Regions from separate parts of the Homo sapiens genome. Here regions 1 and 3 are each reported to be linked to region 2. Evidence: microRNA targets listed by miRTarBase, many of them from high-throughput screens and not tested one by one. Region 2 holds a microRNA gene; each other region holds the end of a gene's coding sequence.

Evidence for each region. The annotated mature microRNA hsa-miR-188-3p reads CUCCCACAUGCAGGGUUUGCA and lies in region 2 at 1,731-1,751, shown strand. An mRNA with a match to its seed (bases 2 to 7 or 8) in the 3' UTR can be bound and repressed. Matches are read on the target gene's strand: a 7mer-m8 pairs with bases 2 to 8, a 7mer-A1 pairs with bases 2 to 7 and ends in A, and an 8mer does both.
Region 1: the mRNA of RNF150 is a reported target of hsa-miR-188-3p. Seed matches in the 3' UTR shown: 7mer-m8 at 1,888-1,894, 8mer at 2,600-2,607, 7mer-m8 at 2,737-2,743 and 7mer-m8 at 3,016-3,022.
Region 3: miRTarBase lists TRIM35 as a target of hsa-miR-188-3p. Seed matches in the 3' UTR shown: 7mer-m8 at 1,689-1,695.

Annotation. Positions count from the first base shown.
Region 1 is chr4:140,865,043-140,869,042 of GRCh38, reverse strand. RNF150 (ring finger protein 150) reads left to right here. Exons shown (of 7, transcript NM_020724.2): 7 at 664-4,000. The coding sequence ends at 782. Among named protein-coding and RNA genes, the nearest start is that of TBC1D9, 110 kb to the right of the region's middle.
Region 2 is chrX:50,001,826-50,005,976 of GRCh38, forward strand. MIR188 (microRNA 188) reads left to right here and starts at 1,678; the gene lies at 1,678-1,763. The region is part of intron 3 of CLCN5 (chloride voltage-gated channel 5); the gene reads left to right. MIR532 (microRNA 532) reads left to right here and starts at 1,323; the gene lies at 1,323-1,413.
Region 3 is chr8:27,284,058-27,288,057 of GRCh38, reverse strand. TRIM35 (tripartite motif containing 35) reads left to right here. Exons shown (of 6, transcript NM_171982.5): 6 at 1-3,172. The coding sequence ends at 508. Among named protein-coding and RNA genes, the nearest start is that of TRIM35, 25 kb to the left of the region's middle.

The sequences.
Region 1 (4,000 bases), not on the chromosome of region 2:
TGAAAATTTTACAGTTCTATATGCAATGTATCATGTACCTACCTACCTCAGTGTACCCTTAACTGTAATATTATCTTGTCTTTTTTAAAGAGTGAAGATTACATAGACAAAAAAGGATATCTTATTTTTACCTTATATTTATTGGTCATTTATATTACACTCTTCCGTGAATTGTGTAATGGTAACCTTTGTCCATTTTTCTATTGAACTGTTTTTCTTATTGATTTAAAAGCTTTCTATATGTTAAGAATAGAAACCTTTGTGAAATTTTTTGCAAATTCCTGAGTTTGATATGCCTTTTGATTTTATTTTACATGTGTGTAACATTTTAAATGTTACGCATATGTAACAATCTTTTCTTCTGTAAATTACCCAATTACTTTTCTAAATAGAATTTCTTGCCCAACTTACGGTAGATATATATTTTCCTACTAAGACATATCCTTAGATGATATATTTTATTATTCTAGTTTCTTTTGTTTGCATTTAACTTTTTGGCCCATGTGAGATGAGGCTTTAACTAGAGTTTTTACAGAATACCCAATTTTTCTAATACCTTCTCTTGGCCTTTAAAGAAATGTTATTACAAGCAATTGTACTGAAATAAGCAGCATGCAAAGACATAGCTCGGTGTTCACTGTGAACTTTGCTTTCTCCTCCCAGGTGAGCAGGAGCCAGCTGTAAGCAGTGATTCTGACATTTCCTTGATCATGGCAATGGAGGTTGGACTGTCTGATGTAGAACTTTCCACTGACCAGGACTGTGAAGAAGTGAAATCTTGAAACGACAAATCCAGAAGCAAAGAGATAGTAGGACCCAAGGGAAAGGAAGGGAAGAGTGCTCCAAGACTTGGACCAGGCACACACACACCTCCAGATCACCTTGGCAACTCCAGGGCGCTCCGTTCAAGAATGCTGACGAAAAGCAATATCCAAAGTCTTGTCAATCAGGATGCAGTTTCTCCATCGGTATGGCAGTCTGTGGCCTTGGCAGCTGGGAAGTTGAAAGCTGATTTCCACTCCTATGTCCATGTAGACATACACTTCAGAAGCTCCTAAAACAGAGACTGAAAGGCCACCTTTAGGATTTCTTAGTTTCATTTCAATTCTTTCCATGTCTCATCATTCTTGTTTTTGGCATGTTGTTTGATTTCTTTGGCAATTTTTTTAAAGATTATTTGTAGTTTACTTTCCATCTATTCCTTTGTTTTTCCTTTGATGCACTCCAGCTTTTGTATAGGTTTCTGTTTAGAAGCACCAGTTCCTGCTATGATCAGTTTGTATTCCATCTCTGAGATATGTGGTCTTGACCTCCCAGCATGAAGTGTGCATGGCTTTGAGAAGTGCCTCAGCACCCTGAAATGGACTAAGGCCAGCTTTCATTAAGAATCTAAGTTCTTCTAAGTGGGCCTTTAAAAACCCCAGCTGCCAGAGACCCCAACACTAAGCCCTAAATCTGCTGAGGCCACTGCTGGTTATTTTAAGCCACATCACACTTGCTTCCACTTGCCGGGCTTGATTAAGGGCCCACGTGACATGAGAAGGGAGCTCTAGGGAAGCCGTTTCATTCTTCTGGGTCTTACAGTCTTTGGCTGAAATTCTGAACTCAGAAGTCCCCTCCAAGGCATCCAGTCTTTGGTGGTTGTAGGGCTGGTTTTAAAACCAGATACCACATTTTCTTCCTATTGAAAACAAAATGCCAGTTGCATTGGTTTCCCCTGGGCTAGAACAGTTTTTTTCTTACCTCTGTAAGTGGGTTCTGTAAAAAATGGAGGCTTTAGAGAAAAGCCAATCATTTTTAAGTCCAATGGCAAACATAGTGGGGGCTGCAGTAGCACCTAGCTTTTACCTTAATTTCGACACACTTCTGTTGAATCTCACCAGACCATGTGGGAGGATTTAGGTGAATCCCTAGCAGATTGCTTCCCAGGGCTCCCTGAGTGTGTCCAGATACCAAGTGAGGAATGAGGTGTGATTTGCTGTATCATTTGAACCAAAAAGTATGCAGCATGAGAATTTGCTAGATCGTTTATCCTGACTGAAATAGACAAAGTAAGAGGGAAAGGAAAAGAGGTATCAAGTAAATACTGAAACCCAATGGTGTTTTTAAACTGTTTCTGTTTTTATTCATCTTTTGTAACTATGACAGAAATGTGCTATTTTTTCAGTGGGCAATTTTGTAATATATTCAGACTATCCAGATACAGAGATGACTAAGGTCATTGATAGCGTCTCTGAACAATCAGACGGATCACCTTATCTCTACACAGCTGGCAAACACCAGGCTGCGGCTTGGATTAACCAGGAAAGAAAGCTTTTCTCACTGAGTTGTTTTTATGTATTGATGGGGACTTTTCCACCTCATTAGACTAATACTCATTCAAAAAGAGTTTGGTTCTGCTGTAAATCCTTGCCGCCTGCTGAAACATGGTGTGCAGGTCAACGGAGAATACTAGCTGCTCCTTTTTCACCACCTTTACCAATTTCCTATTTGATGGTTTGTAAGTAGACAGTAAGGCAAGGCAGATGATTATTACCCTCAGAAAGGTTGCATCTCCCTAGGAGTCCAATGCTTCCTGTAATGAAATCCACTCTCTATGTGTGGGAAAAGAGGCAGGGAGGAATGAAGAGAGCTCTGAATCGAGAATCCTAGATGAACCACACGCTTTACTAAGCCTCGGCTTCTTCATCTATAATGTGAAGGGTTTAATAACATGAGTCCCCAAGCTCCTCTGGCTGTGGGACCACAGATGAGTCTTTCAGAGGCAGGATCCATTTTTGCAGATAGCTATGACTTGTGGCAATCAGGCTTCGTAGCTTGGGGAGGTAGAGTTACTTGACATGTATCATGTAATAACAGCCTTTGAGACTTGGCACAACTATGGTGCTGAGAATGAAAATCTAAATGATTGAAGTTTTAAGTCCAAGTAGGAGTTGGTTTGTTTTGCCTTGTTTAAAAATTGCTGTTAGTCACAGAGTTTGCAATCTCTGGATACCTTCAAATCCTAGCTCTCACTGTGGGATTCTTGATCTCAGAGGTGTTTATTTTTCACAGTCAGCATAGGCTTGCGCCACTGACTCCTCCTTCAGTCGGCTTTGCCCAAAACAAATTTTAGTATTACTGGTATTAAGTTTAGTCCAGTGGAATTAGAAGGATAATTCAATAGCAACAGAAATATAAATTATATTCCATTCCCAGAGAGAGAATGCGCTTTGGATTGTTTAGTCCTCTGATTAACGAGTATTTTCTCTTCCTGCCAAGAACTAGGTGAATCAGGAATTGATTGCATATGCAAGCCCTGGCCACAGCTGCACTTACAGGATGCCTCATAGACGATGAGGGGTCTGAAAGGCCAACCCGAGGCTGGCAGATCTGACCCCAAGGAGGTCCTGCTGCAAACCCCCTGAGCCTTTGCCATTCACTACTTACCAAAGTTTGTTTCTGGAGGATTTTCCTGTAGCTTTGATAGTTTAAAAAAAAAAAAAAAAAGAAAAAAAAAAAGCTTAACCAGAAAGTTTCTCTTTCAGAAGAAAGGGGAACAGCCCTTCCTTATAGCCTTCTTTACCTCCCCCAAAGAAGAGACTGACCTGGAGACCTGGTAGTCTACAGATGAGTGTCAGAGGGTGTGTGTACCCTCTAGAAGCAAATGCAGACTGTATGTGTATTTGCAGATGTGCATTTTTCTATAGCAAGAGTCTAGACTAGCACTGTCCAACAGAAACGTAATGCAAGTCACAGACATAATTTTAAATTTTCTACTAGCCACATTTTAAAGTGTAAAAAGAAACAGGTAAAGATAATTTTAATCATGTACTTTAACCTAATATTGTTTCAACATGTCACTAATGTAAATTAATGACATGTTTTACATGCTTTTGTGTACTAAGTCTTCTAAATCCATTGTGTCTTTTACACTCACAGCACCTCTCAATTTGGATAGTCACATGTGGCTAGTGGCTGCCAATTGGACAATGCAGGTCTAGAGTTCCTCCAGTATTCT
Region 2 (4,151 bases):
AAACTGTAACCTGCAGCACTTAAATGACCCTGGTCAAGGTCCCCAGTGTCCTTCACATTTCCCAATTTACTGGGCAATGTTGTCATCTTACTTGACAGATCAACACACAGTTGATCACTCCCTCTGCCTTGAGACTCTACCTGCTTTCCAGGATTCCACACTCATGAGGTTGTCTTCTTACCTCACAAGCCTCTCTTTCTCAGTCTCTTGATGGTTTCTCCTCCTCTTCCTGAATTCTAAGTATTAAAGAGATATAGGGCTTAGTCTTCAGACTTCTTTTTTTTTTTTTAACTTCTCATTAGTCCTCAGCTGTTCTCATCTTGTCTTGCAACTCTAAGTACCATTTTATGTGGATGATTTCTGTGTTTGTATTTCCAGCCTGGACTTCTCTCCTGAATTCCAGATGCCTATGTCCAACTATGTACTGGACATCTGCCCCGAATGTCTAATAAGTATCTCAAAACTTTAACACATCCAAAGCTGAGGTCCTGGTTTTCCTCCCCCTCTCAAAAAGCCCTACTCCTCCCTCTGTGTTCTCCAACTCAGCAAACAGCATTTCCCAATTGCATATGCCAAGGATATGGAGAATTTTAATAAGCTAAAGGTTTTGGATTCATCTTTGACACTTTTTCCCCTCCATTCTCCAAATACAAACTGCTGTCAAATCTTGTTGGCTCTACTTTCAAAATACATGTCTAATCTGACCACACAGCCACTTCTCATACTTCTCACTTCCTCTATTATTTCCACACTAATCCAGCTTTTCCCTGGGCTGACAAGTGCAAGTTCTCTTGCGTCTGTCTGTCTGTCTGTCTCTCTGTCTCTGTCTCTGTCTCTGTCTCTCTCTCTCTCTCTCTGTGTGTGTGTGTGTGTGTGTGTGTGTGTGTGTGTGGTGTGTGTGTGGACACAAAGTGGTTGGTGGCTGAGAGCTTGAGCCTCCTTTTTTGAGTCCTCTTTCTAATGACCTGCATGCCAGATTCTAAGCTTTCTTACCATCTGTTCTCGTATGTGTGTTATTTCATCTGTAAAATAGGGATAATGATCACCTCATGGATATTTTATGAGAATAAATGAGCTATGTGTGAAAAGCACTTAAAACAGTGCTCTGCAAATGTAAATACTATACTGGTGTTAGGAATAAAAATAAAGGAAAAGAAAGAAGGAAGGAAAACAAATATGTTGTAGATAGTGAACATTTCTGAAGGTACATATGTGAATGTACACAAGCACACCTTCTCATTACAGCATGTCTGGGGCACAGTCATAGAAGTCCAAGGCATCTGGGATACGCATGCACACAGTATACAGGAGAGCAGACCTCCCGACTTGCTTTCTCTCCTCCATGCCTTGAGTGTAGGACCGTTGGCATCTTAATTACCCTCCCACACCCAAGGCTTGCAGAAGAGCGAGCCTTCTCTTCCCTCTCCAGTGCATAGGCATGAGCACATGGACAGGTACACCAAAGGGAGGTAGACCCTCTCTTACGTGCTCTGTATGTGGGGTACACTGTTAGCAGCCATCCCATCTGGATGACTGTCCTGCTTCCATGGCCACTGCTCCTAGTTTACCCATCAGCACTCCTGTGGCTATCTTGCTGCCCACTTGCACCCCCCAGGCCAGTGCCTCTTGCCTCCTAGAGCATACCCATATGTCGTGCCAAGAGAGCAAGCCCTTCCCTGCTCCCTCTCTCACATCCCTTGCATGGTGGAGGGTGAGCTTTCTGAAAACCCCTCCCACATGCAGGGTTTGCAGGATGGCGAGCCTCAGCTTTCCTTGCTCTCTTGTGCATGTGTATATACACATACGCACTCCTTCACCAAAAGAAAAACACACACCCATGTGGTGGGAAGGAGAATGACTCTCAGCCATGTCCTTTCTCCCATCTCAGTCTTACATGGATCCTGCAGGAGAGGGAGACTTCTCTTAGCTTTCTCTTGCACATGGTGCAGCCCCTCATACTCAGGGATAGGCACAGCCTAGAGAAGGAAGGGGGGTCTTTTGACCTGGTTCTGTCTTAGCGGCACCTAGAGGAGGAGAGAGAACCTTCTCAGGACTCCTGTACATGGGGCATGATGAAAAGGGAGTCTTCTAGCTAATTCTCACAAACCCAGTTTGTGAGGAAAATTGTGTCTATATCATAACCATATGCAAAGATGTAATATGCACACACATTTTGGGTTCAGAAAGTAGAATCCACTCACTGTGCCATGCCTTTCCATATGCACACTTGTTTGCTCAAGAGGGTGTGTGAAGATCTGTCTTCTTAGACACTCATGTAGATATGAGTCAGATTGTGAGTTTTCTCTGTTATCTCCCCAGACCCAGGATTTGCAGCCGATTCATTTGGTGAGCCACTCATTCATTCAGCAAATATTTATCGAGCAGCTACTGTGTGTTGGGTACTCCCCTATGCACCAGGGATACACCAGTGACCAAAAGACAAGAATCCCTGCCCTAGTGAGGGGAGGCAGGTAGTGAACAAAATAAGTAAGTAATAGATAGTGTGCCAATTGTTGATAAGTGCTCTGGAGAATAATAAGGCAGGAAAAGGGGACAAGGAGTGGGTGGGGGTAGTTACAGCATAGATGGTGGTGGAGAAGTTTCGATATCAAATAGGGTAGTCAGGAAAGGCCTACTGTGTTCTAGGAACAACAAAGAGCCATTGTGGCAGAAGCATAGGGCTGGGAAGTAGTAAGTTACAATGGAAAAAGGGAAAGCTGATAATTACTATGTATCTCTAAAATCTAAGGCCGCTTTTAAAAAAAAAATCATACCATTATCACACTTAAAAATAATTACCATCCAGGCACAGGGGCTCATGCCTGTAATCTCAGCACTTTGTGGGAGGCTAAGGTAGGCAGATCACCTGAGGTTAGGAATTCAAGACCAGCCTGGCCAACATGGTGAAACCCCGTCTCTACTAAAAATACAAAAATTAGTCAGGCCTGGTGGCAGGTGCCTGTAATCCCAGCTACTCGGGAGGCTGAGGCAGGAGAATCGCTTGAACCCGGGAGGCGGAGGTTGCAGTGAGCCAAGATCGTGCCACTGCGCTCCAGCCTGGGTGACAAGAGCGAGGCTTCATCTCAAAAAGAAAAAAAATTGCCAACAATTTTTTAATATCATCACATATCTGTTGTTCCCATTTCCACTTGTCTCAGAAATATCATAAATTAGGATCCAGATAAGGTCCATGCATTGCATTTGGTTGATATGTATCTTAAGTCCCTTTGAATTATATCTTTCCCTTCCATCTATATTTTTTCTTTCCTTATAATTTATTTGTTGGAAGAAAGTGGGCCATTCATCCTATACAGTTTTGCATAGTCTGGATTTTTGTGATCACATCCCTGTGATGTAGTTTACATGTTCCTTCTCCTTGTTTGTATTTCCTGTAAACTGATAGTTGCATCTGGAAGCCTGATCAAATTCAGGCTTAATTTTGAGGAAGGGGGAGCAGAACTACTTCCATTAAGAGGCACAAAATAACTGATGATCATCTTTCTGTGATGTTAGTTGCCACCGATGCTCAATTCTTAGAGCCGTTATTTCATTAGGGGTTGCAAAATGATGATATTCTAATCCCATTATTCTCTTGATTTATTAGCTGGAATACTTCTATAAAGAAAAACTTCCCTTCATCTGCTATTTGATCACCCAGTGTTGCCGTCTTTATAGGCAAGATAGGATAAATGTTTGGTTCTCTTTATTTATCAGTACTCAGAATAATGAGTTGGTTCACTAGCTTACTCTAAAGAGGATTTTTTAAAAAAACTATTATAATAAACTCATAGATTTAAATATATTTGGACTTTTAATCCATTGCAGTTCTTGCCTTCAGTGAAGCTCCAGTGCCCCATCTTTAGCCAGTAGGAGCTTCTTCAAATTGGTTCCTCAGTCCTTTTGACATGCCTCCGTAGTTATCTGATAGCTTCTCCGCTTTCAGAGATGAAAAAAATGTACAAAGCTCATCGCAGATACCTTCCCCAGGCCTGGAATCTGCCATGTCTTCAAGAAGCCCTGGTTTCTTTTAATCAGACATGATATTTAAAGACCATATTTGCCTCTGGATTGGTCATTGTATTTAGGCTTCTACAATGATCAGAACAGAAAAATGTTTTGTTTTTGTGTTTTCTTGTTTCTAGATAAATACA
Region 3 (4,000 bases), not on the chromosome of region 2:
CAACCATGGCTACCGCGTGCAGGTGGAGAACCCGGAACGCTTCTCCTCGGCGCCCTGCCTGCTGGGCTCCCGTGTCTTCTCACAGGGCTCGCACGCCTGGGAGGTGGCCCTTGGGGGGCTGCAGAGCTGGAGGGTGGGCGTGGTACGTGTGCGCCAGGACTCGGGCGCTGAGGGCCACTCACACAGCTGCTACCACGACACACGCTCGGGCTTCTGGTATGTCTGCCGCACGCAGGGCGTGGAGGGGGACCACTGCGTGACCTCGGACCCAGCCACGTCGCCCCTGGTCCTGGCCATCCCACGCCGCCTGCGTGTGGAGCTGGAGTGTGAGGAGGGCGAGCTGTCTTTCTATGACGCGGAGCGCCACTGCCACCTGTACACCTTCCACGCCCGCTTTGGGGAGGTTCGCCCCTACTTCTACCTGGGGGGTGCACGGGGCGCCGGGCCTCCAGAGCCTTTGCGCATCTGCCCCTTGCACATCAGTGTCAAGGAAGAACTGGATGGCTGAGCTGGCCCGGGGCTGCCCCGGTCTTGTGCCACAGCACTGTTTTCTTTCTGCCCTCTTCCTAATGCCCACACTGCTTGGGCACTATTGCGCCCCTGCCTCCTTGCCAGGCTCTTCCTCCTGTCCTGCCTGGTCCTTTTCCATGACTCCAGGCTGTGCCTCTCTCCATGTTTGGTCCCTTCTGTGCCCATGGTCAGGAGCTATTCGGGTGGCACCTCGCTGGCCAGGCTCTCCCGAGTCGTGGCACCTCCACAATGTGAATTTTCTGAATCCCTATTCCAGGATTTCTGGGAATAATGTTTACTTCTAGAATGGGCCTGTTGTAAACCATCTCATCGAGGTGTGGTAAAGCCATTGGATGAGGAGGGGACTGCCATGGAAAGGAGAGTTTGTTACTTACGGTTCTGAGAGGAGGGGCCACATAGGAAAGCCCCACGGTGGGTCAGAAGGCGGAAGGAGGGAGGGGAACGTGTGGGCAAGAGACTTCCTCTGGTTTCCTCAGGAGGAAATGGGCAAGGCAGAGTAAGCAGGGGAGACAGGTTTAAGGGTAGCTGGCTTGAGTAATTTCAGTGGCTCTCAGGATAGGGGCTGCCCTTTTTGTCTGATACCTGGCCCCGGGATAGTCAGGACAGGTGAATGTTGGCCTGGGGTGTGACAGCCCTGGGAGAGCCATGTGAAGGAGGCAGCTGGCGCCATCGCTCCGGATTAGTTGGTTTCCATAGGAAAGGCATGCTTTCAGCCAGATGCTTGCCATCTCTAGGGATTGGGGGATTGGCTAGCCTGGGAGGATCAGTCTGTCCAGGTCAGCGAGGCCCCAGATACCAGAGCATCAAGAGTACAGGAAATACAGTTAATGCAGGGCCTCTGTGTGGCTGGATCCTCCGTCTCCATCAGATCAGCTCTGATTGATCTATTCTTGCACGATTTCCTCTGAACACAGGGTTCCAGAGTACTTAAACACAACATTTTTTAAATCGTGATTTCGGCCTATTTCCTTGCCAGGCCTGTTTCCCCACCAGGAAATGAGATAGGAGGACTGGATGAGGATGTCCTGTTATAGTTGCTGTGGAGGAAGTTCCTCTGGTTAATTCTCATCAGCGTCTGCAGAAAAGAAGGAAAGAGGGCACCCTTTTCAGTTGGGAAGAAAGGAGAGGGGTGGCGCCATGGACGTGGCCCTAAACGCTGTGGGAGAGGGAAGAGGAGGCTGGGCCTCGCTGCCCTCTTGTCTCTGCTGACTTCAGCCTGGTCATGCTTGCTCTGCCACTTGCGATTTCATCCCTAATTTCTTCCTCCACCATGCCTGCAGACTTTTCCCTGGGCTTGTTTTTTCTCGCACATCTCTGAAGAGTTTTTAATCTTCAGCTCATCATGTCCCAGGAAGTGGCATCATAAAAGGAAATATTTTTTTTTCCTAGGAGCAGTGTTAAAATCTGGGTCACATTCCTGACCAAGGACAGCATCCTGCCTTCTGCCCATCCCCTTCAGTTCACAAAAGCTGACATTTTAAACAAATCATGACTCACACGTATTAATTGGTTATAAATATGTTGTGTACACTGGTTAGATAAAACTTAAGGCCACAAGGAGGGCCCAGGTAGGCGATGTCAGTGTGTGAAGGGGCTGGATTGGGCGTGGTGAGGATGTTGGCAAACCAGTGCATGCACCTGGTTGGAAGATGCTCAGCCTCACAAAAGCTCCAAGCCCTTTGGGAGCCAAAGTGTCTGAGAGTGTGACCCTCTCCTGTAAAGTATTTATCCCACCCATTAATATAATTTCTGTATAATAAACTTGACCTGAAATTATTTCATTCTTTATATTAAACTTTTAAAAATGTTTTTTATTTTCACCTTAGATATGGGAAGAGTTTTTTTTTTTTTTTTTTTTTTAACAGGATAACTTGAGCAGGCTAGGCCTCTTAAAAAAAAATTTGAGCTAAAACTCATTTTTCTTTTGGCATTTTCTTTTCAATGTTCTTATAAGCAAAGTTCATCCATGTTGTAGCATGTGTTCAACTTTATTTTTTCATCGGGTAATATTCCATTGTATGGAATGGTAGTACTACATTTTATTTATCATGCATCGATTGGTGGACATTTGGATCGTTTCTACTTCTTGACTATTATACATAATGCTGCTAGGAACTTTTGTGTATGAGTTTTTGTGTGGACATATGTTTTCATTTCTCTTTGGTATATGCCTGGGAGCAGATTTGCTGGATCATATGAAACTCTATTTAACCCTTGAGGGACTCCCAAACTGTTTTCCAATGTGGTGACACAATTTTATATCCCATCAACAGGGCATGAGGGTTCTGATGACTCCACATCCCTCAGTGCTTTTTATTATCTATCTTTTAACTTAGCCATCCTAGTAGGGGTAATGTGGCATCTCATTGTGATTTTGGTTTGCATTTCCCTGATGGCGAATGATATTGAGCATCTTTTCATGAGCTTATTGGCCATTTGCATATCTTCTTAGGACAGCTATCTTTAGATCACTTGCTCATTTTTTAATTGGGTTATTTGTCTTTTTATTATTGAGTTGTAAGAGTCCTTTTATAGCCTGGCACAAGTCCCTTTAACTGGTATATGATTATAAAATTTTTCTCCGTGAGCTGTTTCATTTCCTTGATGATGTCCTTTGAAATACTAAAGCTTTTAATTTTGATGATGTCCAATTTTTATTTATTTTTTCTTTTGTTGTACATGTATCCTAGAAATCTCACTTTTGATACTGCCCTTAGGTCCATGTAAGTTCGGGGTTTTGGCTCAGGGATGGGGCAGTTATTCTGTTGGCAGGAAGCGCTAGTCCACGAGTTCATTAATTCTTCCCTGAAGCCCCTCTCCTGCCCTTGCCTTCCACTCACCCCGTCACTCTCCTTCTCATTACTGTGTCCAGGCTCAAAGCAGCAGCTCTCTGGGAAGGCCCCCGTTCTCCAGTTTCTCCCACTTTTGCATCCATTCCACATGCACCATCGTTCATGTTCCCATCACCTGGAGAGACCCCATTTCCAACCCGCTGCAGTGCATTTCTCCAGGGCAGCTCTCAGGGCACATTGTCACTGCACTCTGCCTTTATACCCGGAGTCTTCTCAGTCCCGTCACACATGGCTCCAGCCGGACCAGGCTCCTGTTTACCCTTGAAATAGGCCACCTGCCCTCACCAGGGGCCCGTTGTCACTGGAATGTCCTGACCTTGGTTGCTCTGGCTCTCCTGATCATATTGGCTCTGCCGCTTACGTGATATCTCCTGGGGCACACACTGCCTGCCTGATCTTATTTTCTCATCTGTAGAAGTGGGGCCCCTCCCCACCTCCTGAATGTCTGAGCAGTGTGAGCACCTCAGAAACTGGAGTCTCAGAGCACACGAGAGCCTCAGTAACCTCCAGGCTCCCAGTCATGTCCACGTCAGCCACCAGGTATCAGTTGGTCAGAATTAGGTGCACAGGGGCCATTTCCTTTTTTGCTTCCTCTTGCTTGTGGGGGATGAAATTTC